4 linked regions of the Homo sapiens genome follow. The protein of the gene in region 3 purifies or fractionates together with the protein of the main gene of each other region. This does not show direct contact. Each region holds a gene or a part of one and is shown on either strand. Other genes may lie near its edges.

What was found. The genes of interacting proteins can lie anywhere in the genome.
Region 1: the proteins of ARL2BP (region 3) and POGK purify together in Homo sapiens (affinity purification with mass spectrometry; one large-scale study listed by BioGRID and IntAct). This does not show direct contact.
Region 2: the proteins of ARL2BP (region 3) and ELF2 purify together in Homo sapiens (affinity purification with mass spectrometry; one large-scale study listed by BioGRID and IntAct). This does not show direct contact.
Region 4: the proteins of ARL2BP (region 3) and HMCES purify together in Homo sapiens (affinity purification with mass spectrometry; one large-scale study listed by BioGRID and IntAct). This does not show direct contact.

Annotation. Positions count from the first base shown.
Region 1 is NC_000001.11:166,838,034-166,842,274, reverse strand, and holds the start of POGK (pogo transposable element with KRAB domain), read right to left. Parts: upstream 2,801-4,241; 5' UTR 2,671-2,800; exon of another isoform or gene 2,506-2,670; intron 2,421-2,505; exon of another isoform or gene 1,762-2,420; intron 1,321-1,761; 5' UTR 1,319-1,320; coding exon 1,187-1,318; intron 1-1,186.
Region 2 is NC_000004.12:139,167,219-139,170,718, forward strand, and holds part of ELF2 (ETS-related transcription factor Elf-2), read right to left. Parts: intron 1,639-3,500; exon of another isoform or gene 1,549-1,638; intron 825-1,548; exon of another isoform or gene 684-824; intron 1-683. UniProt on the Homo sapiens protein: Isoform 1 transcriptionally activates the LYN and BLK promoters and acts synergistically with RUNX1 to transactivate the BLK promoter. Isoform 2 may function in repression of RUNX1-mediated transactivation.
Region 3 is NC_000016.10:57,244,025-57,248,058, reverse strand, and holds the start of ARL2BP (ADP-ribosylation factor-like protein 2-binding protein), read right to left. Parts: upstream 2,801-4,034; 5' UTR 2,692-2,800; coding exon 2,654-2,691; intron 2,267-2,653; exon of another isoform or gene 2,248-2,266; intron 2,245-2,247; exon of another isoform or gene 1,980-2,244; coding exon 1,918-1,979; exon of another isoform or gene 1-1,917. UniProt on the Homo sapiens protein: Together with ARL2, plays a role in the nuclear translocation, retention and transcriptional activity of STAT3. May play a role as an effector of ARL2.
Region 4 is NC_000003.12:129,285,370-129,288,869, reverse strand, and holds part of HMCES (abasic site processing protein HMCES), read right to left. Parts: intron 17-3,500; coding exon 1-16.

The DNA.
Region 1 (4,241 bases), on a different chromosome or scaffold from region 3:
CTTCCTCACTGTCCCAACATTCACTTTCATTGCACCTGTTCTCCAAGGCTCTCCATTTAGATGTTCTGGGTTGACCAATCTAGCCTCAAAGCCCTGAGTTTTGACTGCCTTGAGTTCTTGTTCCAGGCTAAATAGACCTGACGCCTGCTTGGATCAGAATTGGGAAGAAGGATGTGGTGGGCAAAGAACACTGATGAGACAAAGGCAGCGCGGTGTCCACAGCTAGACTGGCAAACTGAGAGCCTGTGGTTGCACTGTTTTTTTTTTTTTTAAATTAAGGTATAGCATACATATGGTAAAATGCATTACTTTTAAGGGTGCAGCTCAGGAGACCTGTTTTGAAGAACAAATGTCAGTGTTCATGTGTAACCTTAGGGCAAGGCAGATAATCTTTCTGCATCCCAGTTCTCTCCTCTGGTAGGGAACAATTTAGAAGTACCATGCTTGTATGGATAGGGGCTCTTCATGGAAGCAAAGGATACTATGTATACTGACAATGTTTATACACAACGGAAAATAAGCAGAGAAAAGGAATGTCAATTTGTTGCTTATTTAAAATGTTTACTATTCATGCCTAATTACCACGAAGTCCAGTAACTACGGTGAATAACTATCTGTAACTATAAGTATCTACTGCATTTGCATTTGTATAAACCGACCTCTATCATACTATTCTGCGTGTATACCCTGAATCTCTGTATTCCCTGCTGCCCACCATTTCTATCCAGGTCAGCTGGACAGGCAGCTCTCCTGTGTCAACTGTGGTAAGAGGTGCTCACACAGAACCAACTAGCCTAACCTCTCATGTCAACCCAATGACTCGAGTCTTATTTAAAATGGTTCCCTTCAACCAGCAGTAAGTCAACAAACATTTACTTGGTGCCTACAATGTGCCTGGCATCAAACGCAGTGCAGGATAAGTGGGTGAACGAGAGAGACAAGGTCCTGGCTTCTAGGACTTCCAATTGAACGATGACAAGCTACATGGCTGAGGGACTGTTTCCATAACACCTCCTCCATTCTTTGCACTGCCTTTTAAAGCCACAGAGCTGTTTTCTCAGGAATGCAAACACACCGGGCTGGGCTATTTTTACTTCCCACGTCTGTCTGAGGAGGAGACTTAAAGCAAGCTGGGCTCTCAGGCCTGCATCTGCTGGCTGTGTGGACTCCACACCTTCTTACTTACCCATCCGCCCTCAGAGCAGATTCGTACTTTCTGCATGTCTGCCGGGCCGTCCTCTAGTTCCCGGCTCTGAATCTCTTCTTCCTCTTCCTCTTCTTTCAGGCTCAAATTGAGAGGGTAGGCTGTGGACTCCATCTCTGCAAGCAAGATTCAGGTTCAGAAAAACCAGGTGTCACTGTGACCTCCCCAAAGCCTATGATGGGGGAGGCTGAGCCACATACAAACCTCTTTAGCCCCAAGCACTGTTCCCGCTGGAGGGAAGTAAGGAAACAAGAGTCGGCCAGGAAGCTACAGGGTGACATGTTTAATTATGATAAGAGAGGCTGTGGGTAGATAACGTATCTGGCTGCCTTCAAATATTTAAAAAGCTATCTGGGGAAGAGAACCCAGACTGGTTTGTAGAGACTGGACGGCAGAACAGAGGCCGGCCAGTGGATAAATACTCCTGGAAAAGGTTTTAAGCAGTGAGAAAGGCAGTACTTTCTCACAGCCAGTGCCACCCAAACAGGAATCAGAGGCAGGGGAAAGGTGCTGATTTCCTATCAGTGAAGGTGTCTGAACACAGATTGGACACTTACTCAACTGGAATGGGTGCTAGAAGCCAGTTAAGCATGGGCGGAGCGGTTGGCTCAGTAGGCCCATTGCCTGGATTTTCCAAATTCAAAGGTTCTGTCCACGAGCTGGTTCAGAAAATAGGGTCATTCTACCTTAAGGGACTTTGCAAACGCAGGAGTCAGTGAAACATAGTGAGGGTTATGCCTGGATACCCAAAAAGGTGCAGAAATCGGCTGGGGCCCACCCCGACAGGGAAATAACCCATTGCCTCTGGGCTGCAAATTCTCTATTCGCTGACTCTTGGCCAGTACAAAGGGCCGCACTCCTGCCCTCTATGGGCGCGGGCAATTCCTAGGTGTGGAGTGCGGATGCATCTTGAGGGCTGCATCGGGGAACCTCCAAAGAAAAGATCCCTCTGGAGTTCAAAGTCGGTTCCTTCGATATTTCCAAAAAAGATAGGCGAACGCGGCATGGATGGGTCTAGGCTTCAGATGCCTGCAGCTGGGGCCCGAACTTGGCGGCGGTCTCCCTGCCGGCTCCGGGGCAGAGGTGGGAGGGGCCGCCTCCCCGCGCTAAGGTGCCGCAACCAGGGCCGCCGCCCGCCCTGCCCCGCCTGCGCCACCGCCGCCGCGCCCCCGGGCGCGTTCGGATTTCTCCAGCCATCTTGCCCCATTTCCCTTTCTCCGCGGAACCGCGCCGGGAGCGCTTCCGCTGCCCCCTCCGCCCGGCCCGCCTCCCCACCTGGCCCCCTCCCGGCCCCAGCGCACCTGCCGGGCGGCGAGAGCCGGCGCCGCCCGCCTCCCCGGCGGGCCCGCAACAAAGGCGGCGGCGGCGGCGGCGCAGCCTCGGCGCCCCCGCCTCTGCCGCGGCCCAGCCGCCCGGGACCCGGGGGAGGGGCCGCGCCGCCGCCGCCCCCGCCCGCGCGCACTCACCGCCGGGCCCAGCGGCCAGGGCGCGGGGTGGGGACGCGAGGGCTCCGGCCCGGCTGTCACAGCGCCATCCTTTCCGCCTCTCCGTCCTCCCGTGCGCGCGGCCCCTCGGGAGGGAGCGGGGAGGACACGTGGTGGGAGGAGGGAGGGTCCGGCCCGGAGCTGAGGGTGTTGGGAGGCGAGGGGAGGAGCGCGGCTGATGTCAGCAGGCCTCGGCGGCGCCGGGGGACGGCGCCCGCGCGAGCTCCGGGGCCCTCCTCTAGGCGCGGCTTCCGGCCGGTCCGGGCAGTCCCTGGCGGGCCTGGGTAGCCGTGCCCTCGGCCTTCCCCGCCCCGCCCGATGCAGGCCGCTTCCAGTGCTGCGTGTGACCTCGGCGTGGACGAGGCAGGAAGAGCCCAGATTGATTTTAACCGAGCGTAGCGTGGGCGCACAGTTCCATGTGCTCATTTGCAGTCACCAGCGGGTTGCACTTGCTTGGACGAGCTCTCCAGGCGTTCTCGCCGTGCTTCAGGCAATGAAAGGCTAGACCGGCAAGAGCGTGTAGGGGCATGAGGAGGGGTCTTTGGGGAAGAGTATTCGTATTCTGGCAGCGGGCTCCTGTCCAGAACTTCGTCATATACATGGAGAAGGAACTTCCTGATTTTTGTAGCTGTTGCTTAATATCCCAAGCATGTAATTCCTTGGATGAAGTGGGTGTATAGAAGGACCTTTCTTCTCCAAAACGTCCAAAGGAGTTGTTTACTCTCAGCTCTGTGGGCAATACAACAAAAGTGACCTGAGAAGCCCTGAAGCCCTTTTCATTCCAGAAAAAGATTCTGGGTATGGGTTTTTGTTGAGAACTTGTTGAAGAAAAAATTATTCTGACACTTGTTAAAACAGTAAGGAAGACTTTATACAGGGTTATTGCTATAGGTGTAAAGATGATCACACTGGGGGGAGAGATGAGGTCTAACACGGAATACAGTAAGGACAGCTGGGGATGTATAGCCAAGGAGCAGAACGAAGGGGTCAGTAGATGGAAAGTTACTGATACGAGACATCAAGCACCTAGAGGGATTCTTGCTGAACCCACTTAACAGGATTCTTGCTGAAGGCAGGCTAGGGCGATCAGATATCAAGGGTGGGGGAATGAGAAATTTGATCAGATATCCAGGGTGATCAGATATCAAGGGTGGTGATTTCTCTCTAACCTAACTTAGCAGGGTTCTTGCTAAAATAGAGCTGGGCAGGCCAAAGGTTCGGGGTGAGTGGTCAGGGGACCAGGGTGGAGGCCTGCTGAAGAAGAGGACTTAAGCCTGATTAAACTTTGGTCAAGGAAAGAGTCCGTCAAACTCTTCAGATTGTCTCTGAGACCTGAATATCTGTTGGAAAAGACCTGTCTTTCCAAGTTTTTGTGGCCACTACTACTTACATGTGAATTTTACTTCTCTCAGTCATGGGAGAGGTCACTGTGCACTGTGCTCTTAACACGTAAAATGTAGCATGACATAACGTACACATCTTGGAAGTGCAATCACGGTGACAACCCAAGACCGTAGAAGATCTAATCTGTGGGTGGAAAAGATCGTTCAAAT
Region 2 (3,500 bases), on a different chromosome or scaffold from region 3:
ACCAAGACTTTGACTGGAATATCTTATTTAAGAATGTGCACACAATGTCTGGGTTCAGGTGTTCCCATTCCTACAGTGAGAGAATATAATCTGTCACTTCTTGGCCAGCCCAGGAACCTTAAGGCTGTAGGTGAAATCTAATGTCTCCCTTGGTTTGGCTTCCTAGTCTTGAAGGGTTTATAAATCTGAGATTTCTTTGTGGTCAACAGCTATTCTTGCTGCATTTATGTAAATAATCAGACAAAAAACTAATAAAACTATTTTATAAACAAATTTGTCTTATTCTGATTGGTAGAAACTGGGATGACTATAAAAAGTTATGCTTCTAAAGAAAAACTACTGTATCTATTATTAGACTGTAGCCCTGTACACTGTATTTGAGTTTTTATTATCTACCTGCAAACTGGCCTAGATCCTAAATTCTTCTAGGTTCCTCCAATCCAACTTTCTTCCACAGAATTATTAAAACAGAAATTGCTCTGTTCCTGAAGCCCTATAAGCTGAAACTCGATGAATTTTAAGGGACAAGTCTGGTACTCGAAGTCTGAGCCACACAGAAAAGTTCACCAAACTGCCCAATGCCTTAACCAGAGACATTCAAACTGCAAACCAGGATGAGAAGTCGATGGTTCCGCACTGTAGACAGGTTTTCCCAAGATAATTGAACAAGGGGAGACTCTTACCCCTCTTAAGGCGTAGCTTTTTCACTTGGCAAGATAATGTTGTAACTGAAATTTCACAATCAGTAGCTTCTGCTGGTAACTTGACAGAACTTGACCTAAGAGATCCTTCAGTCCACCTAGTGGGTGACTCTGGCAACATCCCTAAAAAAATTATTCACACTCTGCTTTAATTCAACCCAGTTATGGAATGCCGAATGATAACAATGCTCTGCATTAGCTATTGGTTAAGTAAAGAAATGTCTGTGCTATTACTAATACTACATGATTTACCTGGATAAATTCCTTTGAGGAAGTTGAGACTCATACGCAAAATAAGAAAACAGATCACATGGTTACAACAGGTCTCATCTAGTTCTCCATGGTCACTTGGTTTCTTCAACTGACTGCCTTTAGGTCTAGCTTCATGGCTCAAAACCATTATGTAAACTGGTATTATATTACTATTAATTTTACTTTGTATTTTCCTTTTTAAACTTTGTACATGTTATTTGTTACATTTCTGTAGTAGTACAGAATTATACTGACCCAACAGAATTATACTGGGCTGGCCCTAAACCCTGAGATGATAGCCTACATTTAAGGAACAGACAAAAACTGATCTTAATAATGGATTCCCGGCAGACTTAGCCTGAGAATCACTCCCTCCAAACTTCCCTTGTGTGCTCAAATGTGACTGAAAGGGTCCTGACACTGACTCCTAGTTTGACAAGCACTCCCTCCAACATGGGACCATACCAACAACCCAGGACAGGTCCATCCTGGCACCTAAAGATAATTAAAACCTAACTACAAGATGATTGATCAGTGATGCTTCCAAAGAAAGATCCCTTTTGTTTTATTTGTTTTTTTAGAGACAGGGTCTCACCATGTTGCCCAGGTGGGTCTCAAACTCCTGGGCTCAAGCAATCCTCCTGCCTCTGCCTCCCAAAGCGCCAGGATTACAGGCATGAGCCACTGTGCCTGGGTCCAAAGAAAGATTTTGATCAAAAGGGGGAAAAGTGAAAGTTGTTAGAATTAAAATTGAGTCATTTGTGTTAAAAGCCCTGACAAATGGAGCCAGGGAAGGCCATGAAAGGAGGGTTCTCATGCATGAATACCTGATTAAAAAAAAATAACTATTGCCCGGGCATGGTGGCTCACGCCAGTAATCCCAGCACTTTGGGAGGCCGAGACAGGCAGATCACGCTTGTAATCCCAGCACTTTGGGAGGCCAGGGCAGGCAGATCACTTGAGGTCAGGAGTTTAAGACCAACCTGGCCAAAATGGTGAAACCCCATTCCTACTAAAAATACAAAAATTAGCCAGGCATGGTGGCGCAGGCCTGTAGTCCCAGGTACGTGGAAAGTTGAGGCAGGAGAATCACTTGAACCCGGGAGGCAGAGGTTGCGGCAAGCCGAGATCGCACCACTGCACTCCAACCTGGGCTACAGAGCGGGACTACATTTAAAAAAAAAAAAAAAAAAAACTATCACAAAAAAACTCATAAAGGCCACAACCCTGCACAAAGGCAACTGCAACCTTACACAAAAAAATACTTCTGCAAGGACATCTGCCCAGTAACTTCATGTCCAACCTCAGACTGGCATCACTCTTGTCACTGATCTTTATAGCCAAACATAATTGATTTAAAACAATGATGTAATCTTCCTCATTTTTCCTTTAAAAATCTGTCTTGGCCGGGCGCGGTGGCTCATGCCTGTAATCCCAGCACTTTGGGAGGCCCAGGTGGGAGGATCACGAGGTCAGGAGATCGAGACCATCCTGGCTAACACGGTGAAACCCTGTCTCTACTAAAAATACAAAAAATTAGCTGGGCATGGTGGCGGGCGCCTATAGTCCCAGCTACTCGGGAGGCTGAGGCAGGAGAATGGCGTGAACCCGGGAGGCGGAGCTTGCCATAAACTGAGATCTCGCCACTGCACTCCAGCCTGCGCGACAGAGCGAGACTCTTGTCTTAAAAAAAAAAAAAAAAAAAGCTATGTCTTCCTTTACCTCCCTGAATATGCACATAGTTTACTACGGTATGCATATTCCCATTATAATGCCCATTCCTGAATAAATACTGCTTTCTTTCAGAGGGACTGTCTTTTACTTAGGTTGACAGAACCATCTGTATGTAAAAGATGAATTTAGAACCTTATTTCTCACCATACACAGAAATTAATTCAAAATAGATGATAAAATCTAACTGTTAGAGTTAAAACTATAAAACTTCTAGAAAGCAGAAAAATCTCAAGATCTTGGATTAGGCAGAGTTCTTACATAAGACAACAAAAGTATAATCTATAAAAGAAAAAATTTAGAAACCACACTTCATCAAAATTTAAACTAATTACACTTTAAAAGATCTTAATCGCCTTTTTTTTTTTTTTTTTTTTTTTGAGACAGAGTCTCGCTCTGTTGCCCAGGCTGGAGTGCAGTGGTGCGATCTCGGCTCACTGCAATCTCTGCCTCCCGGGTTCAAGCGATTCTCTGTCTCAGCCTCCTAAGTAGCTGGGGCTACAGGTGCACACCACCACACCCGGCTAATTTTTGTATTTTTAGTAGAGATGGGGTTTCACCATGTTGGCCAGGCTGGTCTCGAATGCCTGACCTCATGATCCACCAGCCTCAGTGTCCCAAAGTGCTGGGATTACAGGTGTGAGCCACCACGCCCAGCCACCAATTTTTTAAGCAATGAAAAGACCAGCAACAGACTGTAAAGAAATATTGGCAGATCATGTATCTACTAAAAAACTTACATCCAGAATATATTTCTAAAAAAAAAAACTTCTTATAACTCAATAAGTCAAACAACCCAATTATATTACATTACAT
Region 3 (4,034 bases):
TACAGGTGTGAGCCACCGCACCCAGCCCTGTTTTCTTTTTAAATTGTGGTGAGATATACAATTTTTTTTTATCATTTTAATGTTTAAGCACACAGCTCAGTGGCTTTAAGTATGTTTACATTGTTGTGCAATGATCACCACCATCCTTCAGTCCATTTTAACCATATCCACACAGGGTGGCTTGGGAACTCCCTGACATTACTTTTCTGAAAAGGAATGAATTGGTTCTCTCTTATTTTGATATAACTTCCACAGCAGTTGTGGAAACAGTGTAGTGATTAAAATTATGGGGTCTGAAAGAGGCTAGCCCGTCTGGGTTCGAATCGCATCTCAGCTACTTACTAATTGTGTGACCTTGGGTAAGTTACTTAATTTCTCTAACCCCCATATAAACACATTTATCTGGAAAATAAGAATGGTTTATGGTAGTTATCATATAGGATTGGAAGTGGAATTTAGATGAGAATTCATGTAAATAGATTAGTTCATAGTGAACACTTAATAAATGATAGGGAATAGGGAATTTTTTTTTTTTAATTGAGACAGGGTTCTCCCTATGGTGCCTAGGCTGGTCTCGAACTCCTAGACTCAAGCAATCCACCTGCGCTGGCCTCCCAAAGTGTTGGGGTTATAGGTGTGAGCCACCGTACCCATCCCGGAATAAGGAATTTTAACAACTGAATAGATTATTTCTAAAAATAAAAGGAAAGTTTCAGAAAGGACCCAGACTTTGGGATAAATACCGTAGGCTCACAGAAGGCTCATTTTCCCATAGCATATAGGGTATAATAGGCAAGAGAACTGAATGGATTCTTCAGTATTCCCCAGAAATCCCCAAGTCCACATGGGAAACGAGCTTAATGATGAAACATCTATATTCAGGAGTTAAGGGCATGAACCTTTATACCTGAAGGTATAAAAACTTGGTCAGTAATTTTCATTCTAAATGGATTAAGCCATACAGCCAATAACACCAAATAACAGTGTTCTTTTCTCAATTCTCATAAAACTTAAAGTCAACAGAATTTTCTCAAATGTAAGTTTTCCCCTCCTACATACTTGTCTTAAACCTCTGGGGACTGTTACTGCTTCTCTGTTACTTAGCAGGTTTCATGGATGCCCAAATACATCCACAAGTAGGAACTCAAAACCTAGGAAAATACAGAACCAGCTGAAGCTTAATACCTTGTTTTCTTTATGGCCATGTGTGCTTATGGTTATGGTTTTATGTGTTTATTTTCATTTTTATTTTTTCCAGACGGAGTCTCGCTCTGTCGCCCAGGCTGGAGTGAAGTGGCACGATCTCGGATCACTGCAAGCTCCACCTCCCAGGTTCACGCCATTTTCCTGCCTCAGCCTCCTGAGTAGCTGGGACTACAGGCGCCCGCTACCACGCCCGGCTAATTTTTTTTGTATTTTTAGTAGAGACAGGGTTTCACCGTGTTAGCCAGGATGGTCTTGATCTCCTGACCTCGTGATCCGCCCACCTCGGCCTCCCAAAGTGCTGGGATTACAGGCGTTAGCCACCGCACCTGGCCTGGTTTTATGTGTTTTATGGCATGAAAATGTTAAAACTCAAAACTATCTAAAATTGAAATTGCTCTTACCCTACATAAGAAATAGAGTAGATCATTATTTCCTATAGTTTTGCGAAGAACGCCACACTGCTGGTGCCCTATTAGCCTGAGTCAGTCCCTTCCAGCCTCTGAATCTATGCTTATTAGATGTTTTCAGGAGTACTGGGCTGTTTGTTTCTAAGACAAACTGCAGTAAGCCTTTACTTAAGTATTACATTGTGCTACATTAAAAATTGCAGGCAGCTTGATGTTTTCTCTTTTTAAAATTAACTCTCCAAATTGATTTCAATGTCCTTAAAGAAACAAGCAAGTCCTTAAAAACAGTATCTTAAAAGCTTACCCATGATAATGTCCTCTAAATATCCAACCACAGCATCAAATTCTGCATCAGAGGCGGAGGAGCTGAAAAACATGCCTGGATTAGGTGCTATTTCAAATAATGCATTAAAAAAATGTTTTTAGTATGGACGTTTTCAAACATGCACAAGAGAAAAAAGAGTAGCAAAACGAACTTCCCATCACCCATCTTCAACGATTAAGAATGACTGACTGATCTAGTAAGTCCAAACAGAAGAAAACACACTCGGCACGTTTGTGACATGAACGTTCAATGTCATGACTCCACTTTAATAAAAACTTGTTCTCCAGGCTCTTAGCTATCACCCCATACCTGTCTGCTTGTGAGCATGAACCCGGCACGGGCGAAACACCTGCCGGGGGGGGTCATTTGGTCAGGAGTCCGGGAGGCGGGGGCCAGGGAGGGGTGGAGGGGCCTCGGGCGCTCAACCCCTCCAGGCTTTGCTGACAGCTGAGGGTTGGCGGCTGGGGATTGTGATGGAGGCGCTGATCAACGGTGACACCCGCCTCGCACTCCTGTCCTGCGGGGCCTGAAACCTGCAGCCTTAGTACTCTACAAAAGGAAGGCCTGGAGCTGGGACGGCGCCTTGGCGGCCCCCACCCTGCCCGGCCCGGCCCGGCCCGGCCCCTAAGGACACCTGTTTTATAGGGTCAGGCCCCGGGGCGAACGCCCGCTGCCTCCGGCCCCAAGTCGCCTGCGCCCTGGAGGAGCTACTCACAAAGACAGCGCAAAGCTCTCTCCTTCTAAGGCGTCCATCGCAGTCGCCCCGAGTAGGCTCCAACCCCGCCCGCGGCCCAACTCGCATGCAGGGCGCGGCCGCCCGGCGGGGTTAAGGCCTCTCAGCCAAGGCCGCGGCCAGCTCACTGCCAGGTCGGGTCAGCGCCTGCGCGCCAGGTCCGGCCTTGGATACCCTCTGCCGCCACGCGTCGGTCCGGCCTCTACGCCCGCCTGGCCCTCTGCGCGCGCCGCCGACGCCGCAGGTCCGGGCCTCGGTGACTGCCGGAGGGGCGCGGCGCCCCGCCTCCTGTCACCATGGCCACCGCAACCCCTTCCACCGCCTCACGGCCGGCCGGCATCCAATCACAGGCGAGCGTTACCGATGCCGGGGCGGGGCAAGACAGGGAGAGGAAGTCCCGGAAGGGAGTGCGGAGGGATGCGGCGCTTCGGCGAGCACCCGTTGTGTGGGAACTCCGTCTCAAGTCGCCCCCATTGTACGGATGAAGGAATCGAAGCCACGAGCCAGAATTTCCTCACTCGCAACTCGAGAATAAATTGCGCCTCCCTGAGTGTGGAGGATTAAATAAGTAGTTTAAGGCGTGTTTAAAGAGCGCTTGTAAGTTGCCAAGTCGCTGGAGAGCCAGTCCCTTATCCCTTGAACCAGGTGATGCTGACGTCTGATTTCAAGACAGTTCCTACCCCTCGTGGAAGGAAAGCCCCATCGCAAGAAGTCGATGTCCTGTAATTTACGTTATAATCTTCGCATCATAAAGATTACTCGGCAGTAATTGGTTTCTTGACTAATTATACAAGATGAGAATTGAAGAACTATTTTGAGCCACGCAATCAGGAATCAGATACCTTTCAGGAAAAGGCCTCTTCAAAACTGCCAAACTTTGAAAAAGGATTCGTTTGAGCTGATTTCTCTTGATTGGACAACTAAGCATTGTGTCTCTTTAGTTGCATGATACCTTATGGCCAAAGTGTGGTATATGACTAGAGGAACTAGAGGGGTTTAAGGTATGAACTGAGGGTCAGGTGGCCAGTCAGAATGGGTTAGCAGACATTTTTTATTTTTTTGAGACGGAGTCTTGCTCTGTCGCCCAGGCTGGAGGGCAGTGGCACGATCTCGGCTGGCTACAACTTCCGCCTCCCAGGTTCAAGCGATTCTCGTGCCTCAGCCTCCCGAGTAGCTAGGATTACAAGTACGTGCCACTATGCCCGGCTATTTTTGAATTTTTAGTAGAGACAGGGTTTCACCATGTTGGCCAGGCTGGTCTCGAACTCCTGACCTCAGATGATCCACCTACCTTGGCCTCCAAAAGGGCTAGGATTACAGGTGTGAGCCACCACAACCGGCCTAGCAGACATCTTTGAATGGA
Region 4 (3,500 bases), on a different chromosome or scaffold from region 3:
CAGATGAGTCTGCATCCTGCCACGGAGAGAAGATCTAGTGAGGAGATCATAATGAAATTCTAACCTAATTTAACATATGTATTTATTACATTATTTAGGAGTATTGAAATATAAAGAATTCAAGATTATTTTTAAACAGGGAATCTACTTGAAAACAATTTTTTTATTTTTTTTGAGATAAGGTCTGGCTCTGTCATCCAGGCTGGAGTGCAGTGGCGCTATTTTGGCTCAATGCCACCTCTACCTCCTGGCTCAAGCCATCCTCCCACCTCAGCCTCCCAAGTAGCTGGGACTATAGACACACGCCCCCCCATACCCAGCTAATTTTTGTATTGTTTATAGAGATGGGGTTTCGCTATGTTGCCCAGGCTGGTCTTGAACTCCTGGGCTCAAGTGATTTGCCCACCTTAGCCTCCCAAAGTGTTGGGATTGTGGGTGTGAGCCACCACAACCAGCCAAAAACAATTTAATGACTTATCATGATGTAGGTAACTTGAGTTCTTTAGCAATCATATTTACTAGAATGTAAGACATTCTGCTTGAATAAGGTAGAGGGATGCAAAGAGGTTTAGTTTCTTTAAACTTTTTTGTTTTTTAGAGACAGTTTCGCTCTGTTGCCCAGGCTGGAGTGCAGTGGCACAATCATAGCTCACTGCAACGTTGAATTCCTGGGCTCAGGTGATCCTCCTGCTTCAGCCTCCCAAGTAGCTGGGACTACAGGTGCACACCATCATGTCCAGCTAATTTTGTAGAGATGAGGTTTTACTATGTTCCTCAGGCAGGTCTCGAATTTTTTTATTTTTATTTTTTTTTGAGACGGAGTCTCGCTCTGTTGCCCAAGCTGGAGTGCAGTGGCACGATCTTGGCTCATTGCAACCTCTGCCTCCTGGGTTTAAGCGATTCTCCTACCTCAGCCTCCCGAGTAGCCGGGACTACAGGCTTCCACCACCACGCCAGCTAATTTTTGTATTTTTACTAAAGACGGGGTTTCACCATTCTGGCCAGGCTGGTGTTGAACTCCTGACCTTGTGATCCACCCGCCTCAGCCTCCCAAAGTGCTGTGATTACAGGCATGAGCCCCTGTGCCTGGCCTGGTCTCGAACTCTTAGGCTCAAGTGATTTTCCTGCCTCGGTCTCTCAAAGCACTGGAGGATGCTATTTTTAGGAAAACCTATATACAAGGTTGGCCCTCAACAACTCAGAACTAGATTTTGAGAGTATTCCCACTTTTCCCCAACTCATAAGGGTGGTTTATTCCGCCTAGTCTGTGTAAACAATAAAGTTTATGCCAACACCTGTTTTCCTTCTGGGAGTCTGAAATTTTGGTACCTGCTAGGTATCTGGTAGAGTGCCTACATGATCAGCCTCCAATAAAAACCTCGGACCCTGAGTCTCTAATGGGTTTCTCTGGGCATAAACGTTGTACATACTAACCTGGGCAACATGGCAAACTCCAGTTTCTACCAAAAAAAAAAAAAATTATTCTGGTGTGGTGGCATGCACCTGTAGTTCCAGCTACTTAGAAGGCAGAGGTAGGAGGACCACTTGAGCCTGGGAAGTTGAGGCTGCTAGTGAGCTGTGACTGAGCCACTGCACTCCAACCTGGACCACGGAGCAGGACCTTCTCTCAAAAAAAACAAAACAAAACAAAACAAAAAAACCCCACAAAAAAAAACAAAAACACTGTACATATACATTACTACATTTTTCGTTGCTGGAGAAAGTAACATGCTTGCAGTATCCTCCCACAGGAAGGAAAACATAAGGAAACCTGTGCATGACTTTTTCCAGATTTCTACTAGTGTCTTTTTCCTTTGCTGATTCTATTCTGCGTCCTTTTACTAATAAACCTTAGACACACTATGCCTTATATGCTTAGCCCTTCTAATGAATCTCTAAATATGGGGGCAGTCTTGGGGACTCCCAACGCATGGTTGTCAAACTTTTTTTAAGTAATGGGCCCCTTGATAATTTGATGAAATCTACAGATTAAGCAGCACATACACATTATTCTGCATGGCACAGTACACTCTGGGTTGGGAGAGACCAGTGAGCAGAGAGTGCATTTTGGGGTGTTACTACAATGGTTCAGGGGTCTGGTGATGGCAGTGAGAAAAACAGTGACATCCAAAAGATTTAAAAAAAAATAAAAAGAAATTGTAGTACAAATGGATTTGGATGAAAAAAAGCAAGGATGATTAAGTTTTCAAGCCCAGAAGAGTGAAATAATGATGGTACTACTGAACAGAGAAGAAAAAATGCTGATGAAATGTTTTATGAAGATCATATGTTGAATTTCTGATACTAGTGAGAAGTCTGTGGCAGTTTTCAAAAAATGGTTGCAAAATCTGACACTCCTCCCATTGAGAATTGGGAATCTATGTTCGTTCCCCTTGAATCTGGACGGGCTTGTAACCAACAGAATGTGGCATGAGTGATACTATATGATTTATCTCATAGTTCTGAAAGCTGGGATTAAGGTGCCAGCAGATTTGGTGTCTGGTGAGGGCCCACTTTCTGGTTCACAGATGGTGCCTTCTCACTATGTTGTCACATGGTATCTCTGGGGTGTCTTTTATAAGGACACTAATCCCAGTCATGAGGGCTTTGATTCCCAAAGGTCCTATCTCCTAATACCATCATCTTGGGGGTTAGGATTTCAACATATGCATTTTTCAAGGACACAAACATTCAAACCATAGCAGCTGTGGTCTAATAAGACTTTATACAAACAGGCAGTAGGCCAGATTTGGTCTGAGGACCGTAGTTTGCCAATCCCTGGTATAGAGGAAAGATCAAGGTCTTTGTAAGGAGATCCTGGTTCAAAAATCCTTTCTCTGAGCCAGGCATGGTGGCTCACGCCTGTAATCCCAGCACTTTGGGAGGCTGAGGCGAGCGGATCACCTCAGGTCAGGAGTTTGAGACCAGCCTGGCCAACGTGGCAAAACCCCATCTTTCCTAAAAATACAAAAATTAGCTGGGTGTGGTGGCGTGTGCCTGTAACCCCAGTTACTCGGGAGGCTGAGGCATGAGAATTGCTTGAGCTCGGGAGGTGCAGGTTGCATTGAACTGAGATTGTGCCACTGCACTCTATGACTCTGATGGAAAAAAAAAAAAATCCTGGGCCGGGCGCGGTGGCTCATGCCTGTAATCCTAGCACTTTGGGAGGCAGGTGGCTCATGAGGTCAGGAGATCGAGACCATCCTGGCTAACACGGTGAAACCCCGTCTCTACTAAAAATACAAAAAAAATTAGCCGGGCGTGGTGGCGAGTGCCTGTAGTCCCAGCTACTCAGAAGGCTGAGGCAGGAGAATGGCGTGAACCCGGGAGGAAGAGCTTGCAGTGAGCCGAGTTTGTGCCACTGCACTGCAGCCTGGGCAACAGAGCAAGACTCCATCTCAAAAAAAAAAAAAATCCTTTCTCTGCTACTTATGAGGTTGGACTAGTCTCAACTTCTTGGGCCTTCAACTTTCCTTATCCAAAAATTAGAACAAACAATA